3 separate regions of the Homo sapiens genome follow, and all the other regions are linked to region 1. Evidence: fine-mapped expression QTL. A gene starts in region 1. Each other region holds a variant in brackets. All regions are shown on one strand. Distances are from middle to middle.

The links. PIP is the estimated chance that this variant, and not a neighbour inherited with it, causes the effect.
Region 2: its variant is fine-mapped to the expression of MYL6B in whole blood (TOPMed, PIP above 0.99).
Region 3: its variant is fine-mapped to the expression of MYL6B in blood mononuclear cells (TOPMed, PIP above 0.99). The same link has a PIP of 0.9 or more in adrenal gland, gastroesophageal junction, lung, thyroid, tibial nerve and whole blood.

The regions. Positions count from the first base shown.
Region 1 is chr12:56,147,610-56,155,783 of GRCh38, reverse strand. MYL6B (myosin light chain 6B) reads right to left here and starts at 3,197. Exons shown (of 8, transcript NM_002475.5): 1 at 3,153-3,197; 2 at 1,692-1,911; 3 at 944-971; 4 at 586-729; 5 at 192-365. The coding sequence starts at 1,865. It overlaps LOC124902942, which reads right to left and starts at 3,957. Exons shown (of 3, transcript XM_047429954.1): 1 at 3,737-3,957; 2 at 3,153-3,378; 3 at 1,887-1,975. The coding sequence starts at 3,790. The coding sequence ends at 1,941. MYL6B-AS1 (MYL6B antisense RNA 1) reads left to right here. Exons shown (of 3, transcript NR_186043.1): 3 at 4,799-4,988. LOC124902943 (a long non-coding RNA gene) reads left to right here and starts at 1,911. Exons shown (of 2, transcript XR_007063328.1): 1 at 1,911-2,655. RefSeq lists an enhancer at 4,044-4,123.
Region 2 is chr12:56,320,985-56,329,158 of GRCh38, reverse strand. It overlaps PAN2 (poly(A) specific ribonuclease subunit PAN2), which reads left to right. Exons shown (of 26, transcript NM_014871.6): 3 at 518-687; 4 at 801-921; 5 at 1,087-1,164; 6 at 1,528-1,795; 7 at 2,200-2,542; 8 at 2,750-2,846; 9 at 3,705-3,824; 10 at 4,031-4,150; 11 at 4,450-4,578; 12 at 4,666-4,865; 13 at 4,974-5,110; 14 at 5,246-5,352; 15 at 5,561-5,659; 16 at 5,775-5,848; 4 more. Among named protein-coding and RNA genes, the nearest start is that of PAN2, 8.9 kb to the left of the region's middle. RefSeq lists a silencer at 7,748-7,948. The variant C/T (reference allele first, on the strand shown) is at 3,317.
Region 3 is chr12:56,217,905-56,226,078 of GRCh38, reverse strand. It overlaps RNF41 (ring finger protein 41), which reads left to right and starts at 4,157. Exons shown (of 7, transcript NM_005785.4): 1 at 4,157-4,319. NABP2 (nucleic acid binding protein 2) reads right to left here and starts at 1,737. Exons shown (of 7, transcript NM_024068.4): 1 at 1,638-1,737; 2 at 1,144-1,245; 3 at 568-706; 4 at 384-455. The coding sequence starts at 1,222. RefSeq lists a silencer at 1,649-1,888 and enhancers at 2,620-2,914, 2,331-3,264, 3,746-3,965, 3,265-4,199, 4,186-4,235. The variant G/A (reference allele first, on the strand shown) is at 4,508.

The DNA of each region.
Region 1 (8,174 bases):
ATGGCACTTTAGCCTCTGGAAGAGCGAGTCCTTCAGATTCTACCCCCATAGCTCTGACCTTCTCAGTCTCCTGCCGACAACCTGCAGGACAGTAAGCCTCCTGCTAGCTCTGCTTATCTGTCCAGTCTTTCTGGCCCACCCCATCCCCCTCTCCACTCTAAAGGAGTTCTGGTCCCCCTTGCCTGCCTCACCAAGGGTGGTGAGAACATGTCTGAGCTCTGCTCCCATGACTTTGCCGTTCCCCTCCTTGTCAAACACACGAAACCCCTCCAAGTAGTCCTCATATGTGCCTTGGCCTCGGTTCTTGGCCACTGCCTGGAGCATGGGCAGGAAAGTCTCAAAGTCCACACGCCGCGACTTCAGCTCTGGAGGTTGGAGAGAGGTAAAGGAGAGGTCATTGTAGTATTACATAGGACCCAGCTCCCAACCCTACCACAATGCTTTCATCCTATTCAGCATTTAGGATATTTTCCTGCTTCTGTGTTTGACAGTTTTTGAAGTCCTGAGATCCACCTCATTCTTTTTGTTACCAACATCCAACTTTTGAAAACTAAAAACCCAAATTGTTCCCAAGGGTCCCCTCACCATCACTCTTGGGGTTCCCCAGGACCTTGAGCACCTCGGCGTTGGTGGGGTTCTGGCCCAGGGCCCTCATCACGTCCCCACACTGGCTGTACAGGATCTTGCCATCCCCCACTCGGTCAAACAGCTCGAAGGCCTCCTTGAACTCTAAAGTATAAGGAAGGGTCAGTGTAGACACTGACTAGGGTTCCCATCACCCCCAGACAGAAGGGAATTTCAGAAACTATGTGAACAGAACAAGGGAGGAAAAGAGGACTAGTATGGGAGGTTTCAAGGTCAGGACTGGGGTTAGGGGAATAGAAAGAGAATCTGACCAGGGGATTGGGGATGGGACAGTGGCCTTAGATGAGCTTCTCCTCACCCTCCAGCTGGTCCTTGTTAAACTCGATCTGTGGAAGAAAAAAGCAGGTGGGGAGAGATGAGAGTTTATTCAATCCCTCTCCCGCACTCCTCCCAACCAACTGGCAGCCACTTCTGAGGAGGGGCCCAAAGGGACCAGGCTGGAAGCCCAGCCACCTCAGTCCCATTCCCAGCTCTGGGCCTTGGGAGAATCCCAAGAAGAGGAATTACAGTGGGGAGGGTTTCCTGGGAACAGGGTTAATCCCATGCCACCTGTTTCCCTCCCTCCATTGCCCTGAGCCCTGCATCCCACACATAACTGGGGGCTGAACAAAGGCTAAATTTACCCCTGGCCCCCAGCTGTGATTGTCTAACAAGTCTGTCCTCTTCAGCCTCCCCTCCTGGAGTTCAGAGCTGCAGGCCTTTTGAATTGAACCACCAGCCAGGGGCAGGCAACAGCTCTCTTCCCTTCACCTTGAAACTGTTCTCAGAACCCAGATGTTCCCCATCTAAGAGTCCCTGCCTCCAGCAGGGGGTAAGTGAGTGTGTATGTGCTGTACACACATGATTATAGGTTAGAGGGAGAGAACAGCAAAGACAACAGCAGAGTCATAAGACTGGATGCTTCCAAATGGGGGACTAAGGGAAAGCCCCAATCTCATTCCAGGGCTCACTGATTCCCTACCTTCTAGATACCCCCTAATCCCCTAGGCTGTATCCCACCCTCAAACCACCCCCTCCAATTCTATCTTCACTTTCCAGAGACTCACCACCACTTTGGAGAGATCGACTGGAGGCTCCTGGGTTTTCTGAGGGGCCTGGGGGACAGCTGGCTCAGCTTTGGTCTTGGCTGGAGGAGCCCCTGCTGCTGCTGGCTTAGCAGCAGGTTTGGAGATGGAGGGCCCTGCTGGTTTCTTCACGGGAACATCCTTCTTGGGAGGCATGATGTCCGGTGGCCAAAGGACAGTGTGCGGATGGGGGCACCCATCTCTGTTTAAATAGCCAGGGAGTCTGGGATGTCAAGGGGCGGGGGCAGGGGCAGGGAGCCAGTTGGCTGTGGCAAAGATGAGGTAGAGGAGAGATATAACCGCCTGCCCTCACTCCCCTGGCCTCCTATGGTTCAGGACTCCTGCCCCAAGGTCTTCTTCCCTCTGTCCCCTTATCCCCAAAGGCTGACCAGAAAAGAACAATGTTTCCTTTAGGGGTAGGGGAGGAAGCCAGAGACTGCCCAGAATGAGGTAGTTAACCTCCAGGGTGAGGATAGGATGCTTGCCAGTGGCACTGAGATGGGGGTGGTGAGGCAAAGCAGGTGATCCAGCAGCTTTAGTCTTCTTGAAGGGTGGGGTGAGGGGTAGCAGCCAGGGAGGCTTGTGTGAACTGGAACAAGTTAAAGTGTGGTCTGGGAGCAATGACAAAAACAAGAAGCCCATCTGCCCAGCCCCTCCACTCCCTTCTGACCATGGCTTTGTAAAGAGCAGGGGTAGTTAACCTTAGAGTCTAATGATCCCTAATACTTGTAGTTCCTGAGCCCCCACCCAGCCAAGAACTGGAACTATTCACAGTATAAAGGAAGAATAGTCATAAAAACAGGAGTATGACATCCCTCATTGTCTCCTGTGCCCAGTGTTGTTTTAGGGGCAGGAGTGGGGGCAAAGATCAGGTTTAACATCTGCTACCCATTCTTCCATGGAAGAAACCTTCCACAAGCCCACGGTCATTCAAGACAAACAAAAGGTAGGGTGCTTGCTGAACCTGTGGGGACCCTTTGGTGGCACCTGAGGAGAAGGGCAGGCTCTGGGAGACGGCTTAAATTCCCTAATCCAAGAGGATGTGGGCGCTCCTATGGCTCCATGAGTATTCACCCCACAACCAGGGGTATAATAAAAATCCTGACTCAGGGGCCAGGTCACAAACCTTGCCAGGGGCGCTGGGAGAGAGTCCAAGTTGGGGGGCGTTTGGGAGTGGGGAGGGATTGCAGGCTACTTTTGTTCTGGGGTAAATTAGGAAAGGATTTAGGTAGCATTCTGAGGAAGATAGCAGTGATTCCACTTAGGCCCCGGGGTTGATGCTGGGTCTCCCATTCGCAAAACAGCGTCTGAATCTCATGACTGCAAATTGTCCCATTTTTACAAAATACATCACACACACACGACACACACACACACACACACACTCACGCACCCCCACTAAATCTTAAAGAAAATGGCCCTCCTCAGCCCCCAAAAACTCACCCTGCGGGGTCCGTGTCTGGGGCTGGGGAGGGGGCGGGGCATAGCGCGGCCCCCAGCCCTGAAGGGTTAATTCCGGTGGCCGCGGAGCATGCCGGGAGTCGTAGTTCCCCGCGGGCTCACGGGATGCGCCGCGCTCTAGATTGCAGTTGACGCGAGGGCGGTGGCTTCCGGCCCATGGCGGTGGTTGGTGACTCAGTGTCCTTCCAGCGCGCTTTATGTCCCGGAACTGAAAGGCAATGAACAATTTCCAATCCACCCCAACCCTAAAAACCCTGCGGGGCCCCTAGGGTATCCCTCCTACTTAACCCTGGCGGGCTCCTAGTCTCGGGAGGTGGAGGGGGCGGGGCGGCTGTTTTCCTGGACCTACTGCTGAAAGAACTCAGAACCTGGGGAAAGATTGAGGCTGCAGCAGGCAGCGTGGAGGTCAGATAGCTGGAAGCACTTAACGGCCCCGGGGAGAACCGCTGCACTCTCTTTTGCTTCCTCTCGCGGTTTGGTAGAAAAAAAAGAGGCCTCAGAGTAGTTTGTTTTTAATGAGCTGGTTGCTGAAGTAAATGTTAAAATTTGCAATTAAGCCCAGTCACCTGCCCCAGCCTTCTCTGATCGAGGTTTCCATCCTGCGGCAGCATATGCGCCATCCTCCTCGATCTTCACAGGTCTCTGAGCGGAGGGCTGGGCTTTCCAGCCCTACTTTCTGAAACTCTTATGGTCAGCATTGGAGTTCACTGGTTCCCCTAGGCGTTGATCAGAGGATGGGAACCAGCCCGGCCGGGCCCACCTTCACTCACTGGATCAGTAAATACCCTGGCGGTGCACCTGGTGTTGGAAGCTGGTGCTGCACAGGCGTGTGAGGATTAGATCAGAGCAGAAAACTCGGGCGATGGCAGGGTGGTGAGGCACAGGTGAACTTTATGGGCAGTAAGTGAGGTTCACTGGTTGGGGAAAGTTTATTGGAAAGGTAGAAATGAATTGTACGACAGAAATAACGATAATAGTAAGTTAGCAACCATTTCTGGAGGCCGCCATAGATCTCGTACCGGTGAAGGGGCTAAATTATCTCAGAGGGTGCTCAAGTGGATGGGGTTCAGACAGCCTACTCAGATTTAAATCCTGGTTCTACCAGGTCCTAGTTAGTGACCCTCAGCAGGTTTAGTTATCTCTCCTGGGCCTCAGTTCCTCATCTGTAAAATAATGATAATGGTACCTACCTCATAGGGCTCTTCGGAGGATTCGAAGTGTTATTATTGGTAAAATAGGGCCGGGCTTGGTGGCTCACACCTCCCAGCACTTTGGGAGGCGAGGCAGGTGGGTCACCTGAGGTCAGGAGTTCGAGACCAGCCTGGCCAACATGGTGAAACCCTGTCACTACTAAAAATACAAAAAAAAAAAAAAAAAAAAAAAAAAAAAAAAATAGCTGGGCCTGGTGGCGGGCGCCTGTAATCTCAGTTACTTGGGAGGCTGAGGTCGGAGAATCACTTGAACCCGGCAGGTTGCAGTGAGCCGAGATCGCACCACTGCACTCCAGCCTGGGTGACAGAGTGAGACTCCAACTCAAAAAAAAAAAAAAGTGTAAAATAGAATAGGCCTGGCACAGCATAAGTGCTGTATAAGTTTTTGTTAAATAACTTTCCTTTAATCTTCCCAAGGTATGAGGTCGCTGATATTTTCCCCATTTTACATCAATGAAGTAAGGATCAATAGGTGTTGTGAAGAGACGGAGAGGAAGAAGGAATACATTTTTAAGTGGTTATAAGACTGGGAAAGGGCCACATTATAGATGCCTTTGTGTGGCTTTCATTACTTTTGCAGACATTGATTTCAAAATATGGCTCTTGTAATTTTTTTTCTTTCCTTTTCCCATTTTTGGCATTTTGCCAAGTATGAGTGGTTATGGCATCATCTGACTTTCTAGCATTTTCTATAGAGAAGTAGTACAGGGAAAAAACGTTAAGACCCTTGCAGAGATGGGAAGGCTATCCTTCATTTTCTGTGCCATCCCTGTCTTGATCATAAATAACAGGAACTGGACGAAACATGGTCTTAACTGGGCATAGGGTGATTATATATGTGAATTATCTGTGAGAAATGCCTGTCTCTCCTCTCTCCTCTCCCTGCTTAGCATGTGATTTGTATATTCTTATTTTTCTTTGGTTTTGTTTTTTTCTAGAAATGAGGTCTCACTGTGTTACCCAGTCTCAAACTGAGCTCAAGTGATCTTCCCATCTCAGGTGCCTCCCAAAGTGCTGGGATTATAGGTATGACCTACCTTGACTGGCCTGTATATTCTTAGAGATTGCATTTTGTGGGCAGGGAGGGAGGTGAGTCCGAAGCTTGCTTGCCTTCCCTAGGCATGCCGTCCTCCAGGAACCTCCACATGTTCAGCTGTCCAGAGTGGCCCATTAGATTGAAAGAATATGGAAAGCCATTGGGGAGCTGTTCCGCAGTGCACAGGTCTATGCACACTTACCCCCAAAGTCCAAGGAAGCTAAGAGGTTGAGGAAGGAGGCTGACAAATCCAGTTTCTTAGAAATATTTAATAGGAATTTATGAACAGAAGCCATGTCTGTGTCTTGGGTAGTGGTGAGACACGATGGTGGATCCCCAGGACATCATCCCCTGGAGTAAGTCCTGACCCCAGGACTTACCACAGGGAAGGAACCTCTAGGACAATTGAAGTCTACCCTGCAGGGAAAGGCAAGAATACTCAGTAAGCCAGGCTTTATGATCAAGATTGTTTTGATCTAAGGAGAAATTATGGTAAGTACATGCTCTTACACAAAGAACAGTAGATAAAATAGAAATCTTAGAGGCATTCCCAAAACTGGGGTTAATCAGACATGAACATTCCCAGCACTTTGGGAGTCCAAAGTGGGAAGATCACTTGAGCCCAGAAGTTCAAGACCAGCCATGGCAACATAGCAAGAGACCCCAACTCTACAAAAAAAATTCAAAAATTAGCCAGGCATGGTGGCACGTGTGCCTCTGATCCCAGCTATTCAGGAGCCTGAGGTGGGAGGATCACTTGGGCCCAGTAGGTCAAGGCTGCAGTGAGCCATGTTTGTGCCACTGCCCTCCAGCCTGGGCAACAGAGTGAGACCCTGTCCTTAAAAAATTTTTTAAAAAAAGCAGGCCGGGCGTAGTGGCTCATTCCTGTAATCCCAACACTTTGGGAGGCCAAGGAAGGTGGATCACCTGAGGTCAGGAGTTTGAGACCAGCGTGGCCAACATGGTGAAACCCTGTCTCTACTAAAAATACAAAAATTAGCCAGGCGTGGTGGCAGGCGCCTGCAATCTCAGCTACTTGGGAGCCTGAGGCATGAGAATCCCAGGAGGCGGAGGTTGCAGTGAGCTGAGATTGTGCCACTGCACTCCAGCATGGGCAACAGAGGGTGACTCCATCTAAAAAAAAAAAGAGAAAGGCTGAGCGCCGTGGCTCATGCCTGTAATCCCAGCACTTTGGGAGGCCGAGGTGGGCGGATCATCTGAGGTCGGGAGTTCGAGACAAGCCTGACCAACATGGAGAAACCCTGTCTCTACTAAAAATACAAAATTAGCCAGACGTGGTGGTGTATGCCTGTAATCCCAGCTACTCAGGAAGGCTGAAGCAGGAGATTCGCTTGAACCCGGGAGGTGGAGGTTGTGGTGAGCCGAGATCATGCCATTACACTCCAGCCTGGGCAACAAGAGTGAAATTCTGTACCCCCCTAAAAAAAAAAAAAAAAAAAAAAAGAAAGGTGGAATGGGTGGGAAGTGTTATGTGGAAATAGGCTCCCAGAGAGCACAGTGGAAAAGGTTGAGAGGAAGAGAAGCAGAAGGAGATTGTATTAGGGCCCTTTAGCTGCTCTCTTCAAGCATGTTTATTCAGTATACGTTCCTTTTTGTGTTTTGTTTGGGAGACAGGAGTCTTGCTCTGTGGCCCAGGCTGGAGTGCAGTGGTGCATCTTAGCTCACTGCAACCTCCACCTCCTGGTTTCAAGTGATTCTCATGCCTCAGCCTCCCAAGTAGCTGGGATTACAGGTGTGTGCCACCATACCTGGCTAATTTTTTTTTTGTATTGTTAGTAGGGATAAGGTTTTGCCATGTTGGCCAGGGTGGTCTCGAACTCCTGACAGGTGAGCCACCGCCTTGGCCTCCCAAAGTGCTGGAATTATAGGCATGAGCCATTGCGCCCGGCCTCTGTATACATTTCCTTTCCTCTCCCCCGAGAAACAGGGGCTTGCTCTGTTGCCCAGGCTCTGGATGCAGTGGCACAATCATAGCTCACTGCAACCTCAAATTCGTGCGCCACCGTACCTGGCTATTTCTTATATTTAGTTGTTATAGTTTTTGTTTGTTTGTTTGTTTTTTGAGATGGAGTCTCACTCTTGTCACCCAGGCTGGAGTGCAGTGGTGCAATCTTGGCTCACTGCAAGCTCCGCCTCCCGGGTTCATGCCATTCTCCTGCCTCAGCCTCCCAAGAAGCTGGGACTACAGGCGTCCCACACCCAGCTAATTTTTTGTATTTTTTAGTAGAGACAGGGTTTCACTGTGTTAGCCAGGATGGTCTCAATCTCCTGACCTCGTGATCTGCCCGCCTCGGCCTCCCAAAGTGCTGGGATTACAGGTGTGAGCCACCGCGCCCAGCAATTTTTGTCTTTTTAGTACAGATGGGGTTTCATTATGTTGGCCAGGCTGGTCTTGAACTCCTGACCTCGTGATCCGCTGGCCTCTGCCTCCCAAAGTGCTGGGATTATAGTGTTGGAATTACAGGTGTAAACCACGGCGCCTGGCCCCACTTAAGGAAATAATGTGAGATGTATATAAATATCTTCATGGCCAGGTGCAATGGCTCATGTCTGTAATCCCAGCACTTTGGGACGCCGAGGCAGACGGATCACCTGAGGTCAGTTCGAGACCAGCCTGGACAACATGGTGAAACGCCGTCTCTACTGAAAATACAAAAATTAGCCCAGCGTGGTGGCGGGCATTTGTAGTCCCAGCTACTCAGGAGGCTGAGGCAGGAGAATCACTTGCATCCGCAA
Region 2 (8,174 bases), 170 kb before region 1:
GATGGGATGTTTAAGGAGGTTTAGTAGTTACCATCATCTTCTTGGTATCCATGTGGGATTGGTTCCAAGATCTAAAGATACCAGATACCAAAATTCAAGGATGCCTAAATCCGTTATAGAAAATGATATAGTATTTGCATATAACCTTATGCACATCCTCCCAGATGTGAAACATAAGAAAGCCAGCTGGCCAGTAGAGAATTGGACCATGTCCCTGACCTTCTATATACTGTTCTAACCAAGTGAGCCATTACCTATTCAGCAGGGTCATTGTGAGGACAAAATGAGGTAGAGTTTACCAAAATGCTGTGTAACACATTAAACAAACATAAGACAGTATTATCAGTGTCTTTATCACTAAGATTGACTGGTTCCTAGCCTTTTGCCCCAGTTGCTCCTAGTCACAAAGGCCAAGCAAGAAAGGATCCAAGCTGAGCCATGTTCAGTCCCTGACCTGGCCGTAGGGTGGCCCTTGCCCCTCCACTCTAAGTGTCTCTGTTGTCTTTGTCCTCTATAGGGCCATGCCACTTCATTTTTTGGCCCAGCCTTGGAGCGCTACTCATCCTTTCAAGTCAATGGCAGTGATGATATTCGGCAGATCCAGAGCCTGGAGAATGGTATCCTTTTTCTCACCAAGAACAACCTCAAGTATATGGCCCGTGGGGGCCTCATTATATTTGATTACCTGTAAGTGGCTTCTCAGCTCTGGACTAGGAACGAGGATGCCTCATAGGGTGGGAAGGCTAAGGGATTGGCAGCTTGTAAGGCCTGGGCCCCTTAGCCTTTCCTCTCCCCACCAGGCTGGATGAGAATGAGGATATGCACAGTCTCCTACTGACTGACAGCAGCACTCTACTCGTTGGTGGGCTGCAGAATCACATAATAGAGATTGATCTTAACACTGTCCAGGAGACTCAGAAGGTACAAGCTTGGGGCAAGAAAGACCTATGTGGGGTCTGAGGTTGTTGCGGGGGCAGGGTATGCTTGGGCTGGTAATGTGCCTGAGATGTGGGTGTGACCTTTCTGTTCCCTTGGTCTGTGGGAAAAATCATTCTTCTCACTGGTTTTTCCTGCTTCCCTCTCCAGTATGCAGTAGAGACGCCTGGAGTCACCATCATGAGACAGACAAATCGCTTCTTCTTCTGCGGCCACACGTCTGGCAAGGTGGCCAAGTTCCATTTCTCCTCCCACTGCAGGGCCCTGTTTCACTAGATACCTGATTGCGATCTGCTTTCCCTTAACTCTGGGGTGTAGTTGGATTGGAGGTGAGGGATGAGTGGAGTGAATTCACTTCCTACTCAGTGATGTTCTACTATGAGATTATTTTGCAGCTTGATGTTTTCTATGATAATGAAGTCTCCCTGAAGCCCCTTCTGGCTCTGGGCTTCTCTGTTTGCCTTTTCTGTGCTTTAACTTTCCCTGTCCTAAAGCCCTAGTTCCTTTGGTAGGGACCCCACTGGGTTAGGTAGGTGGCAGGTATTTTTCCTGATAACAGAATTTGCAGATAACTGAATTTTTTTTTTCTAGGTTTCCCTGAGAGACCTCCGTACTTTTAAGGTGGAACATGAGTTTGATGCCTTCTCAGGAAGTCTGTCAGACTTTGATGTGCATGGCAACCTGCTAGCTGCCTGTGGCTTCTCCAGCCGCCTCACTGGCCTGGCCTGCGACCGTTTCCTCAAGGTGTATGATTTGCGCATGATGCGTGCCATCACACCACTTCAAGTACATGTGGATCCTGCCTTCTTGCGCTTCATTCCTACATATACTTCTCGTCTTGCTATCATCTCTCAGTCAGGTATGAAGGGCATATGGGATTGGGTAGGAGGGATCGATGAGCAAAGGAGAGCTAGAACCCGAAGGAGTACTCATCCTGAAACCTCTTTGTTGGGGAAAGAAGTAACCTTTCATCAGGGTCCCAAGGTTTTACTTGGGTTTGGCCAGAGATTAGAGCTTTTATTTTCTTGAATATGAGGAACATGGAAAAAGGTAAAGATAAAGTAGGCAAAATAACTGTAGAATTGCTCTTTGCTGAGTAGCGAACCATCTGTGGTTTATGGAAGGCACGAAGTGGCATTCTGTCTCTAGGCATGGATTTGGGGCCCATCTTGTCCTGAAATCAGGGGAAGAGGATAGGAAGGGCATAAGAATATGGCTCCCTTTCACTTTCTAGGGCTCAGTGGGTTTCTTCCTCCTTTGTAGGGCAGTGCCAATTCTGTGAACCCACAGGCCTGGCCAACCCAGCCGATATCTTTCATGTGAATCCTGTGGGGCCTCTGCTAATGACATTTGATGTGTCAGCCAGCAAGCAGGCTCTGGCCTTTGGGGATTCTGAGGGCTGTGTGCACCTCTGGACTGATTCCCCGGAGCCTTCCTTCAACCCCTACTCCCGTGAGACTGAGTTTGCTTTGCCGTGTCTCGTGGACTCACTGCCTCCTCTGGACTGGAGCCAGGACCTGCTGCCTCTTTCCCTCATCCCTGTCCCACTCACCACTGACACACTTCTCTCTGATTGGCCTGCTGCCAACTCTGCTCCAGCTCCCAGGTTGTACCCTACCTCTGGGCCAAAAGGCGGGAGGGACAGGGAAAGGGCCAAGATACCAGAATTCTCTGCTAGCCCTGTTGTTATTCTACTACTTTCCTGATTTTTGTCTACCTTCAGTATTTTCTTTTTCTCTGGACCCTTGGGGATTGGGGAGTGGACCAGTGTACACCACAACTCTTTAAGTCCTAGAACTATGCTGGATTGTAGGCGAGCACCACCCGTGGATGCAGAGATTCTGCGCACCATGAAGAAGGTGGGCTTCATTGGCTATGCGCCCAATCCCCGCACCAGGCTGCGCAATCAGGTGTGTTCAGAGTGGAGGGTCAGCCCCGACCCCGGCCCACTGAAGTTTCTCCTATCTTTTTCCTTTACTAGTCTTTCTTTTGTTTTTAGATCCTGTTGGTAACCAACCAAATTGATGGAACTATGCTAGGTGTTAGGGAGGATTCAAAGATAGAGAAGCTAGGGTCCTTGCTGTTAGGAAGTTTAGTATTTGGTTGGTGAAGAGAAGACATAGCCATATCAGAAATTACGTTCTGTTGTTAAATGCTGAAGGAATGTCATAAGCATTTAGTGCCAGAGCTGTTTGGAGGAAAAATGTTATTCCAGGCTAAAGTGACCAAGGAAGGTGTAATGAAAGAGCTGGGTATTAAGCTGGAAAGGTGGGATATCAGTTAAGTAGATAGTAACAGAGGAGAATATCCAAGATGAGAGAAGAGTGTTAGTAAAGATCTCAAGAGGCATAAATGCAAAACACATATCTGAGGGGGACTA[C/T]ATGAGTATACCAGTCTGGCCGGAGTAGCTGTTGGTATTGGGATGTAGTGAGCGATTAAAATTAGAAGTGGCCAGATTGCGAAGCTTTGAACACCAGTCTATAATAGAGGAAGTAATACACAGAAAGCAGCATTCTGCAAGGGTTAATTTGGTAGTGGTGTGCTGGACAGAGTGAACATAGGGAGACCAGTGTGGACGCCATCACAGTTGTCCATCTGTGCTGAAGCAGAGTGATGGCAGTGGAAATAGAAAGGAAGCAGCGGATGCTGAGAGTGCTATGAATATAGAAGGTTCAGGACTTGGTGGCTGTTTCAATGTTGGGATAAATGAGTGTGAAGCCAAAGATGACAAGACATCCAACAAGGTTACCTCTTCCTAAAATCCCTAGATACCCTACAGACTCAAGGAGTCAGACAGTGAATTTGACAGCTTCAGCCAGGTCACTGAGTCACCAGTAGGACGAGAAGAGGAACCACATCTCCACATGGTTTCTAAGAAATACCGCAAGGTGCTGGGGGACATCAGGGCCTGTGGGATGTGGGGAAAGGTACCCTGGGAAGGAAGTCATATGAGAAAGGATTGAAGGACTCAGTCAGGAGGCCTTCAACTACCACCCTGGACCCAGGAGGAAGGCTCTAGGAAAGGCTGTGGCTACTGGAAAGATTTGGGGACTCTGAGAATATCCTTGTCTTGCTCAGACAATTTCTACCTTAGGTGACCATCAAATATTCCAAGCTAGGGCTGGAGGACTTTGACTTCAAACACTACAATAAGACCTTGTTTGCTGGATTAGAGCCCCACATTCCCAACGCCTACTGTAACTGCATGATCCAGGTAAGGGTTGGGTATTCCTGTAACTTGAACGTGCCTGCTGCTTTTCTTCTTCCCTATGGCTCTCGACCCTGCTCTTTCCAGGTCTCCTCAGCCGTGTTCTCTTTACCATGGTCTCCTCTACAATTCTTTCTTGCCTCTACAACTTTCAAGTCTCCTCTGAGCTCCACCGGTTTGGTGGACTCACTGCTTCGGTGGACTCCTGCTTCTGGGACATTTTCTCCACCAGCTCACTTAACCTCCATATTTCTCCTCACCCCCAGGCCAGTTTCCTACATCAGTTCTTCTGCTTTTCCCTCCAGGTGCTCTATTTCCTGGAGCCTGTACGCTGTCTAATTCAAAACCACCTTTGCCAGAAGGAGTTCTGTCTGGCATGTGAGCTGGGCTTCCTGTTTCACATGTTGGACCTCTCTCGTGGTGACCCTTGCCAGGTCAGTACTTGGAGACACTTAAAATGGAAGGGGAAGGAAGGTGGACACAAAAGACAAAATAACCCCTTTCCACCAACACATTTCCAGGGCAATAATTTTCTTCGGGCATTCCGTACTATTCCTGAGGCCTCAGCCCTCGGTCTAATCCTGGCTGACTCAGATGAGGCCTCAGGCAAGGGCAATCTGGCCAGGCTCATTCAGAGGTGGAATCGCTTCATTCTCACTCAACTGCATCAAGATATGCAGGAGCTGGAAATACCACAGGCTTATCGAGGTGCTGGAGGCAGGTATGAAATCAGGATAGAAATAGTTAAAGCCATCATGACAGGCCCCTCTGTGATTTAAAAGGTCTCCTAACTTCCTCAATGTGCATATATCATCCTCTCCACTCTTAGCAGCTTTTGCTCATCGGGGGACTCTGTTATTGGGCAGCTCTTCAGCTGTGAGATGGAGAACTGCAGCCTCTGCCGCTGTGGCAGTGAGACCGTGCGAGCCTCATCCACTCTGCTTTTCACACTCTCCTACCCTGATGGTAGCAAAAGTGGTATACCCTTCAGCTCAGTTGGGAAGGCTCCCCAAAATGTCCTGTAATATCAGGGAGAGGGTGTTGGGGACTAACTGTGGGTAGAGGGGAGAACCAGGAGTATAGCATCTAATTTTCCCTCAGATAAAACTGGGAAGAACTATGACTTTGCTCAGGTGCTGAAGCGAAGCATCTGCCTGGACCAGAATACACAGGCCTGGTGTGACACCTGTGAAAAGTACCAGCCCACGGTGAGTGGACTGTTGGACTGGACTAGAGTCCTGGTCCTGCCATGGAGATTCAGCCACTATCCCATGTGGGGCTGGCTCTGTCAGCACTGCCATCCAGGGATCTCTGGTGGAGTGAGGAATCCCAGTTTGAAGACGCAGACCCAGGTCCCTGTCCAGACTCCTTTTCCTGTACATTCCCTGCCATTCCTTGTTTGTTTCTTCCTCTCAGATTCAGACCCGCAACATCCGCCATCTGCCAGATATTCTTGTCATCAATTGTGAGGTGAACAGCTCAAAAGAGGCTGATTTCTGGAGAATGCAGGCTGAGGTAAGGACTCAGACTAGAAACAAGGCTTCCGGAATAATTTTTCATTTTATCCCCCTTCTGACCTCCATATATGATTACATTCCTGAAGAACTGGATGTTTTTCTTCTGTGTTCAGGTTGCCTTCAAGATGGCAGTAAAGAAACACGGTGGGGAAATCTCCAAGAACAAGGAATTTGCTTTGGCTGATTGGTAGGTGCTGTCTTGGGAGTTGTCAAAGGATTGAATTGCCCAGTGGTTCCTCTTATCAAGACCTCTTTCGGAACAAATTTCCAATTCTTCTGACCTGATAGGAAGGAACTAGGGAGTCCAGAGGGTGTGCTGGTGTGTCCCTCCATTGAGGAGTTGAAGAACGTCTGGCTTCCTTTCTCCATTCGCATGAAGATGACCAAAAACAAAGGGCTGGATGTTTGCAATTGGACTGATGGGGATGAGATGCAGGTTGTTGAAAAACCGGGAAGAGGAAAGGGAATAAGGGAGAGAAGGTGGGGCAGAAGGTAAAGGAGGGCAGGGGAAGGTGAAACTTAGCAGAGGGAAAAGGAAGAGAATAAGGCCTAGTATTTACCTGTTAGGGGATTTTCCATAGTCACTCAGTTCAGTGTTGGGGTCCTAGATGGGCTAGGATGGAGATAACCCACCCTGGTCCCCCATCCCCCATACCCCCAACTCCCTGTCCTCTGTCCCCATTCCCCTCCCTTCCCCATCCTTAAACTTAGCTTAGCAGCCTGGGTACCCCCCTCACAGTGGGGCCCAGCCAGGGCAGAGGAGGAGCATGGTGTCTATGTGTATGACCTGATGGCTACTGTGGTACACATCCTGGACTCACGCACAGGGGGCAGCCTGGTGGCTCACATCAAAGTTGGAGAGACCTACCACCAGCGCAAGGAGGTGAGTGAGGTTGTAGAGGGCAGGAACACTCCTGGGATGGCCACAGTGAGTCCCAGATCTGTCCTTGAGTCTGAGACAGAGTGGTCCAGCCATCAATTTGTATCGCCACAGGCTTTCTTTGTATTTCCATAGGGCGTTACTCACCAGCAGTGGTATCTGTTCAATGACTTTCTTATTGAACCTATTGATAAGGTTAGTTGCAACATGTTCTGTTTCTTCTTTCATTTCCCCTTTTCCTAGCATCCTTATCTTTAGGGCTCTATAGAATGCCAGGCAGATTCAACAGGGAGGGAGGAAGGAATCCTCAGGAATAAAAACCATTAGCACTTAAAAATAGCACCTGAAAAAAAACAAAAACTAGCACCTGAGTCCTGGCCTCCGTCTGAAGTGGGGGAAAAGGAAAAGGGTGATATACATTAGCCATAAGTGCTTTTTCTCTTCTATAGCATGAAGCTGTGCAGTTTGACATGAATTGGAAAGTACCTGCAATCCTTTATTATGTCAAACGGAATCTCAATTCCAGATACAACCTGAACAGTAAGTGCTACATAGTAGACCCAAGTGTGTGGACAGTTTAGATTGGGCTTCAGGGTGAGATCTGGGACATTGCTTGCAAGTACTTAGGATTGGTAACCAGTGTTAATATTTCTGGAGATACTAAAGAGATTCCTGCTCATCAGACCTTAAATTTAGAAGTGCGAAATCCAGCCTGAGCAACATAGCAAGATCCCATCTCTTTGAAAAAAAATTTTTTTTTTTTTTTTGAGATGCAGTCTTGCTCTGTCACCCAGGCTGGAGTGCAATTGCGCAATCTCGGCTCACTGCAACCTCTGCCTCCTGGGTTCAAGCGATTCTCCTGCCTCAGCCTCCTGAGTAGCTGGGATTACAGACGCCCACCACCACACCCGGCTAATTTTTTTGTATTTTTAGTAGAGACAGGGTTTCACCATGTTGGTCAGGCTGGCCTCGAACTCCTGACCTCATGATCTGCCCGCCTCAGCCTCCCAAAGTGCTGGGATTACAGGCGTGAGCAACTACACCCAGCCTAAAAAAATTTTTTTTTTTTTTTTAATTAGCCTAGTATAGGCCAGGCACAGTGGCTTATGGCCTGTAATCCCAGCATTTTGGGAGGCTGAGGCGGGCAGATCACTTGAGCTCAAGAGTTCAAAACCAGTTTGGGCAACATGGTGAAACCCTGTCTCTACAAAAAATACAAAAAGTAGCTGGGTATGGTGATGTGCTCCTGTTGTCCCAGCTACTTGGGAGGCTGAGGCAGGAGAATCACTTCAGCCTGGGAGTCAGAGATTTCAGTGAGTCAAGATTGCATCATTGCACTCCAGCCTGGGTGACGAGAGTGAAACCCTGTCTCAAAAAAAAAAAAAAAAATTTAGCTGAGTGTGGTGGCATATACTTGTGGTCCCAGCTATTGGAGAAGCTGAGGCGGGAGGATCACTTGAGCCCAGGAGGTCAAGGCTGCAGTGAGTGAGCCATGATTGCACCAGTGTACTCCAGCCTGGGCAACAGGATGAGACTGCTTTTTTTTTTTTTTTTGGACAGAGTTTCACTCTTGTCACCCAGGCTGGAGTGCAATGGCACAATTTTGGCTCACTGCGACCTCCACCTCCCGGGT
Region 3 (8,174 bases), 70 kb before region 1:
TGTAATCCTAGCACTTTGGGAGGCAGAAGCGGGAGGATCACTTCAGCCCAGGAGTTTGGGACCAGCCTGGGCAACATGGCGAAACCCCATCCCTATAAAAAATACAAAAAAATTAGCTGGGTGTGGTGAAGCACGCCTGTAGTCTCAGCTACTTGGGAGGCTGATGTGGGAGGATCACCTGACCCCGGGAGGTCAAGGCTACAGTGAGCCCAGATCATGCCACTGTACTCCAGCCTGAGCGACAGAGACTGTTTCTCAAAACAAACAAACAAACAAACAGAAAAAGTCCAGAAATGAGGCTTGGACTGCACACCCTATGCTGCCTCCTTGCAAACCCCTTTGCCCTGGTGCTTCTTCATCCCAATCCCCAAGACAGCACTTACTCTCCAATCTTCTGCAGATCACCCCCACGGCCAGTATATAGTGTCAGACAACCTTTGAAAACTGAAGCGTACCTATGGGAGGCAAAAAAAGCAAAATTCAGTACTCAGAAGTGTTATAGGGACTGTTAACCCCACTCTTGATTGTTGTTGCCTTTGGAAGGCCAGAAGTCACCAGCTGACTTACCCTTTGGTGAGCCGGATAATGTCCCCAGGCTGGATCAGATTGCCAACATCGTCCCAGACAGAGATATTGATGCTGCCTGTTTTGTCCGCCACTTTGCAGGTCCGAACCTCATGCCCGTCCTTTGTCTTGGTCACTCGGCCTGAACGGAACAGATAAATCGAGGTGGGAGGATGGTCAAATAAATGGAGTGGTATCTCTCAGAAGGATGAGATGTGGATATTGGTGGAATGAGGGAAAAGGTGTACAAACAGGGGAAAGCCCAAATCCCTGGGGCATAAAGGGTTGGGATTGTGGAAGGGGTGGTGGAGGGTGGAGGTGGGAGTTCAGGGGCCAGCACCATGGAGAGGGCCCTGAGTGGAAAGAGGCCCGCGTCGCACAGGAGGTCTAGATCTGGCAAGAGTTCTATCTACCCTATACCTGACTGCAACTTTCTGTCCCAGGGTCGAAGAGATTGGGAGTGAGGAGTGTCTTGCAGCTTGCCTTGCCATCCCCATAGCAAGTTAAGAACGCAGACAGCGTTCTTCCCCTCCTGCCCCCGACCCCCATCCCGCGAACCCGCCACCCCAGTATAGACACCTGTCTCCAGCACAATGAAGATAAGGTTCAGATTCTTGAGCCCAGGCTTGATATCCTTCACAAAGGTCTCCGTCGTCATGCTGCCTGAGCCTCGGCACCCCACTGGATGGGGAATAGAGGATGAAGGCTCAATGCTTGGATCCTTTGCCCCCATGCTCCACTTCCCAAGGCCTACCTACCCCATTAGGCTGGGGTCAGGCAGCCTCAACCCCTCTAACCCTTCTAAAAGATTAAAAAAGAACATCCCCGGAGGCCTCCAACTTCAGGATCAGAATTTGGGGGTCTCTGGACAGGCTGCTTTGGGGCTGGAAGGCCCCCTGCCGGGATGCTCTTTTAGTCTCAAGCCGCGAAGTGGCGGAGCCGACGTAGACAGGGGTAGGGAACCCGGTGCACAGCCAGGGAGTAGAATCTTACTGGCCAGATCTTCCGGAACCCTCATCCCGACAAGCCGGGACTCGGTCCATCCCCTCCCCTACCCGCAGCCCACCACCCACCCAAGCCAGCCGGCAGGACTGTGCACGCCGCTGAGCAGCCCGCAGGGGGAGCCACAGGCTCCGCTGCCGCCGGATGCTGCCCCGTGGAACGCGGGAGTGCGGACATTCCCGGAAGTTTCCCCCGGCTGGCCTCCTCCGGCCAATCAGCACCGCCCGGGCGCGCCCTGCGTCCCGCCGCCTGCCCTGCCCAGCCAATCGGGATCAGAGACTCGTGCGCCGCGAAGGGGGCGAATTTCAGGTATTAAAGGAACCTTGGAGATAGTTGGCTCTGTAGGGGGAAAAATCCACCACTAGAAGGCGCACAGGGCCCCCAGTTTTCCTTAACTTGGCTAGGGAGAATGCACTTAGGTTCTAAGACGTTTCTTTCCAAAGAGTGACACAATGGGAAAAGGAGCAAGGGCTTCGGAATCTGGCGGACAAAAGTTTGAATCCTGGCTCAATGCTTCACTTCATTTCTCGACTATTTAAACATATGTAATTCCAATTCCGCAAGGCGCGGTGGCTCACGCCTGTAATCCCAGCACGTAGGGAGGCATAGGCTGGAGGATAGCATGAGTCCAGGAGTTCCAGACCTGCCTGGGCAATATAACGAGACCCCATTCTCCACAAAAAGGGAAAAAAAGACAAAAAATATGTAATTCCATCTTACGAGAAAACGGAAGTTATATTTAAAAAAGTGCCTTGCACACAGTAGGCACACACGGTTTCCTCCCTTTTTATTGCTCTAACCGTTATCTTTGTTCCTGATTTGGGGTTCTCATCTTTAATGCACTACCCAGCTTGGTCAAGGTCTCTGGGAAAAGTGGCATTTACACCAGAGACAAAAGGCAGGCTCACCCTTCTTGGAAGAAATGGAACCTGCGACAAAGAGAGAAACATTGTTAGTCCCTTTTTTTTTTTTTTTTGAAACAGGGTCTCGCTGTGTAACCCAGGCTGGAGTGTAGTGGTGCAATCTTGGCTTACTGCAACCTCCCACCACAGCCTCCGTAGTAGCTGGTACTACAGGTTCGCACTACCACCCTCGGCTAATTTCTGTATTTTTTTTGTAGAGACAGTTTCGCCATGTTTCCCAGGCTGGTCTCGGACTCATGACCTCAAGGGATCCGCCCACCTCGTCCTCCCAAAGTGCTAGGATTACAGGCGTGAGCCGCTGCACCTGGCCATACTACTCTTCCCCGCCCCGCCCCACCGCTCCACCCCGGCAAAGGAGTCTTGCTCTGTCGCCCAGGTTGGAGTGCAGTGGCGCGATCTCGGCTCACTGCAATGCAACCTCTGCCTCCCGGGTTCAAGCGATTCTCCTGTCTCAGCCTCCCGAGTAGCTGGGATTACAGGCGCCCGCCACCACGCCCGGCTACTTTTTTTGTATTTTTAGTAGAGACGGGGTTTCACCACGTTGGCCAGCCTGGGCTCAAACTCCTGACCTCGTGATCCACCAGCCTCGGTCTCCCAAAGTGTTGGGATTAAAGGCATGAACCACCGCGCCCGGCCATACTACTCTTATCTTACTTATCTCAGAGTCCCGCTAGAAGACAGCAGAAAGGAGGCCTGAAACTTTAGTTCCTTTTGGGACCTGTCAAATTGTCCACAAAAGGTAGCTAGCTCTGTATTGTTGTGTATAAACAAATTACATAAAGATATGTGTGTATGTGTGTATTAATGTGCATTAGCATTTGCTTAGCCAATGTCCACAATAAATACCATACTATTTAATACCAGATTAGTCTAGGAAGTCATGTGATTGTAATGCCTTGGTTTGCTTAATTAATCCCTTATCTGCTCACGGAGCTCTTTAGGCTCCACATTGACTTCCCTTGGATCCCACGTTCTCTACCGCCCACATCCCCAACACCACGGTGTTGTAAGCTAAGGAAATCAAACCCCAACTCAGGAAGAGGGAAATTTTTTCTCCCTTCCTTCCTCTTAGGTGTTTCAGGGAACTCCACAAGTGTTCGGGGAGCCATCGTGGATACGGCAGGAGAGCGCCTGGGAGAGAGGCAGACAACCCGTTGAGCACCCCAGATCTAAGCTTTGCGGTCAGACTCCCTCACTCCCCACCCCGCGGCCGCCTTGTTAACTGCAATATCCATTCCCATGACAGGAGTCAAGGGGTTACGAAGCTCTGGGATGCTGACCAGGGCTCTGGAAAAGGGAGAGGGGCCGGACCCGCAGCAGGTCACGCTGCAGGCCTGCCTCTCCGCAATGATCTCGCAACAATCTGCGTCAGCTCTAAGACACAAGTCACCTGCACCCCTCCAAAGCGAAGCGTGGCCGGCCAGGCCCACACGTTTTTGCCGGGAAGAACATAGAGTTCTCCCTCCTAAATGGCTACATAGTCCTGGCTGGGACCATATAGACTCTAGACTAGACTTCCTGTCTAGAGTGGAGGCCTGGCCAGCCTTCGTCCCTCCTCGTAGGCAGCTCCTGGCTGCTGGTGTAGGGGCTGAGTTAAACAAAGAGGCGGGGTTTGGTGACGAGCTTCCGCCGGGTTGCGTAGCAGCGGTGGGCGGGGCAAAGGATCCGTCTGAGGCGGCGACGAGTGGTAGGAGTCTTCTTTCCCCTCCTTCCCCTTTCCCTTCCCTTCCCGGGAGAGGCTGGGACCCGGCACCAGGGCAGTACTGTGGCCGCTGCGGCCTCAGCTCCGACTGGGTCAGGTTGCGGAGACTCCAGGCCGCTTCCAGGGCGGTGCGTACTGCGCCTGCGCGATCTTCCACCTAAAAGAGGGTGTGGGAGGGGAGGAGGTGATGTCCCAGGGGTATTGGGGCGGGGGGTTGAAATAACTGGGGTTCAGGAGGAGGGATGGTGGTAGAGATAAAAATGTGAGAAGGGAGCAGCACTGGCGAGGAGTCGGGAGGTGAGAAGGGGGCTCTGGA[G/A]AACGGGTTGTTGGGGAAGGTCCATTGGAATAGGGGAGCTTTGAGAAGTGCGGGAGGGGGCCGGGGCTAGCTGGAGGACCGGCACCTGCAGAACTGGGGGAACAGCGTGGTGTTTAAATGGGCAATGATTGACGGGCCAGAAGGGGAGGAAGGGAGCATTCCGGGGGCCAGCCTGGGCAGGGGCGGTGGAACCTAAACCCCCGCCCTCGAAGCGCCATAGCTTGGCTCCTCTCCCATGCCTTGTCGTTGGCAGCCTTGTCCTCTCATTCCTTCCCCGCTCCTCACCCCCTCCCAGCCCTCCATGAAGGAATCTCACATTCTTCACATCCCTGCGCTTGGTTTGCAGCCTGGCTCTCTGGCAGGGTTCACACACCACACACTGGAAGGCCTTCCCTAACTCAGGACTTTGGGAAATTGGGTAGTGGGGAGGAGGGGGCTAGAGGAAGAGCAGAAAGCCAGGAGGGGTGAAGGCGTTTTGCTTGAGGGATTGACAGACTGCTTCCCCGTTCAGAAACTTCATTTCATTTAATAGCAAGTGGGGCTGTTATTGAGGCCACTGTTCTTGGGGACTGGCCCGTGATAGTGTTATCCCTTTCTATACAGGGGTTTTAGAGTCTGACAATAGGGCAAGAGACTGATAGTGTTGTTGGCTGATAGTTTTGCCCCAAATAAGAATGTAGTGGACTAGTGGTAGGGAATGTGAGTGATGCAATGTTAAGCCGACCGACCTGTGGCTAGCCCTGCCTTCTAGTAAAAAGAAGGAACAAGCTTTTGTCAAGCATTTCCTCTCCGACTCTCAGTACTCTAAATTTATTTTGCATTCTTGTTTTTTTTTTTTTTTGAAACGGAGTCTCACTCTGTCACCCACGCTGGAGTGCAGTGGCACAATCTCGGCTCAGTGCCACCTCTTTCTGGGTTCAAGCGATTCTCCTGCCTCAGCCTCTTGAATAGCTGGGATTACAGGTACCTGCCACCATGCCTGGCTAATTTTTTGTATTTTTAGTTGAGATGGGGTTTCACCATGTTGGCCAGGCTGGTCTCAAACCTCTGACTGTAGCCGGGCGCGGTGGCTCACGCCTGTAATCCTAGCACTTTGGGAGGACGAGGCGGGCGGATTGCCTGAGCTCAAAAGTTCGAGACCAGCCTGGGCAACACAGTGAAACCCCGTCTCTACTAAAAATATAAAAAATTAGCCGGGGCATGGCTGCATGCACCTGTAGTCCCAGCTACTTGGGAAGCTGAGGCAGGAGAATTGCTTGAACCCAGGAGGCAGAGGTTGCAGTGAGCTGAGATTCCACCACTGAACTCCAACCTGGGCAACAGAGTGAGACTCTGTCTCCCCACACCCCCCGCCAAAAAAAACAAAACAAAACCCTGACCTCAGGTGATTGGTCCATCTCGGCTTCCCAAAGTGCTAGGATTACAGGCATGAGCCACTGCACCCAGCCTTATTTTGTATTCTGTTGCTACAAATAATCTTACTTGAGGATAACAGTATTCAGTATCCTTTCATATTTATTTATTTATTTATTTATTTATTTATTTATTTATTTTTGAGACAGGGTCTCACTCTGTCACCCAGGCCGGAGTGCGGTGCTGCGATCTCTGCTCACTGCAACCTCTGCCTCCTCGGCTCAGTTGACCTTCCCCCTTCAGCCTCCTCAGTAGCCGGGACTACAGGCACTCACGCCATCATGCCCGGCTAATTTTTGTATTTTTTGTAGAGACAAGGTTTCACTATGTTGCCCAGGCTGGTCTCAAACTCTTGGACTCAGGTGATCCACTCACTTCGGCCTCCCAAAGTGCTGGGATTACGGGTGTGAGCCACTGCGTCCAGCCTCCTTTCGTATTTATTATTTCATTTGATTTGCAGACAGTATGTATAAGGGGTGCGCGCGTGTATATACACATATATACACACACACACATATATACACCTTATATTACGCCGGGCGCAGTGGCTCACGCCTGTAATCCCAGCACTTTGGGAGGCCAAAGGTGGTGGATCATATGAGGCCAGTTTGAGACCAGCCTGGCCAACATGTTGAAACCCTGTCTCTACTAAAATATAAAAATTGGCTGGGCGCGGTGGCTCACGCCTGTAATCCCAGCACTTTGGGAGGCCGAGGCAGGCAGATCACGAGGTCAGGAGATCAAGATCATCCTGGCTAACGTGGTGAAACCCTGTCTCTACTAAAAATAAAAAAAAAAAATTAGCTGGGCGTCCTGGCGGGCGCCTGTAGTCCCAGCTACTTGGGAGGCTGGGGCAGGAGAATGGTGTGAACCTGGGAGGCGGAACTTGTAGTGAGCCGAGATCGCATCACTGCACTCCAGCCTGGGTGACAGAGCCAGACTCCGTCTCAAAAAAAAAATAAATAAATAAATAAATAAAATAAAAATTAGCCTGGCATGGTGACACATGCCTGTGATCCCAGCTACTCAGGAGGCTGAGGCAGGAGAATTGTTTGAACCTGGGAAGTGGAGGTTGGAGTGAGCTGAGGAGATTGCATCACTGCACTCCATCCTGAGCGACAGAGGAAGACTCCATCTCAAAAAAAAAAAGAAAAATAGGCCAAGCATGGTGGCTCACGCCTATAATCCCAGCACTTTGGGAGGCCGAGGCGGGCGGATCACAAGGTCAGGAGATTGAGACCATCCTGGCCAACATGGTGAAACCCCGTCTCTACTAAAAATACAAAAATTAGCTCAGCATGGTGGCACATGCCTGTAGTCCCAGCTACTTGGGAGGATGAGGCAGGAGAATCGCTTGAACCCGGGAGGCAGAGGTTGCAGTGAGCCAAGATCGTGCCACTGTACTCCAGCCTGGCGACAGAGCAACACTTTGTCTCAAAAAAAAAATAACATATATATATATAATAAATATGTATATATTATATATACCTTATATTAATATATAAGGCAGGTATCATTTTCCCTACTTGACAGTTGAAGCAACAGAAAAACTACAGCAGGGTTACTTGACTTGTTTAAATGTGTAGATTTGGGGGTGGGCGCAGTGGCTGGTGCCTGTAATCCCAGCACTTCGGGAGGCTGAGGTGGGAGGATTGCTGGAGCCTGCCCAGGAGTTCAAGACCAGCCTGGGCAACATGGCAAAACCCCATCTCTACCAAAAATACAAAAATTAGCCAGGCATGGTGGTGTGTGCCTGTGGTCCCAGCTATTTGGGAGACTGAGGTGGGAGGATTGCTGGAGCCTGCTGGGAAGGCGAGGCTGTAGTGAGCTATGATCATGCCACTGTACTCCAGCCTGGGCAATAGAGCAAGACCCTATCTCAAAAAAATAATAATAATTTATGTGGGCCAGGCGCGGTGGCTCACACTTGTAATCCCAGCATTTTGGGAGGCTGAGGCGGGTGGATCACCTGAGGTCAGGAGTTCGAGACCAGCCTGGCCAACATGGTGAAACCCCGTCTCTACTAAAAATACAAAAATTAGCCGGGCATGGTGGTGGGTGCCTGTAATCCTAGCTACTCTGGAGGCTGAGGTAGGAGAATCACTTGAACTCGGGAGGCCAAGGCTTCAGTGAGCCAAGATCGCGCCATTGCACTCTAGCCTAGGTGACAGAGCGAGACTCTATCTCGAAATAATAATAATAATTTATGTGAAAGCACTTTGGAAACATTAAAGCAGCATCCCCAGCCTTTTTG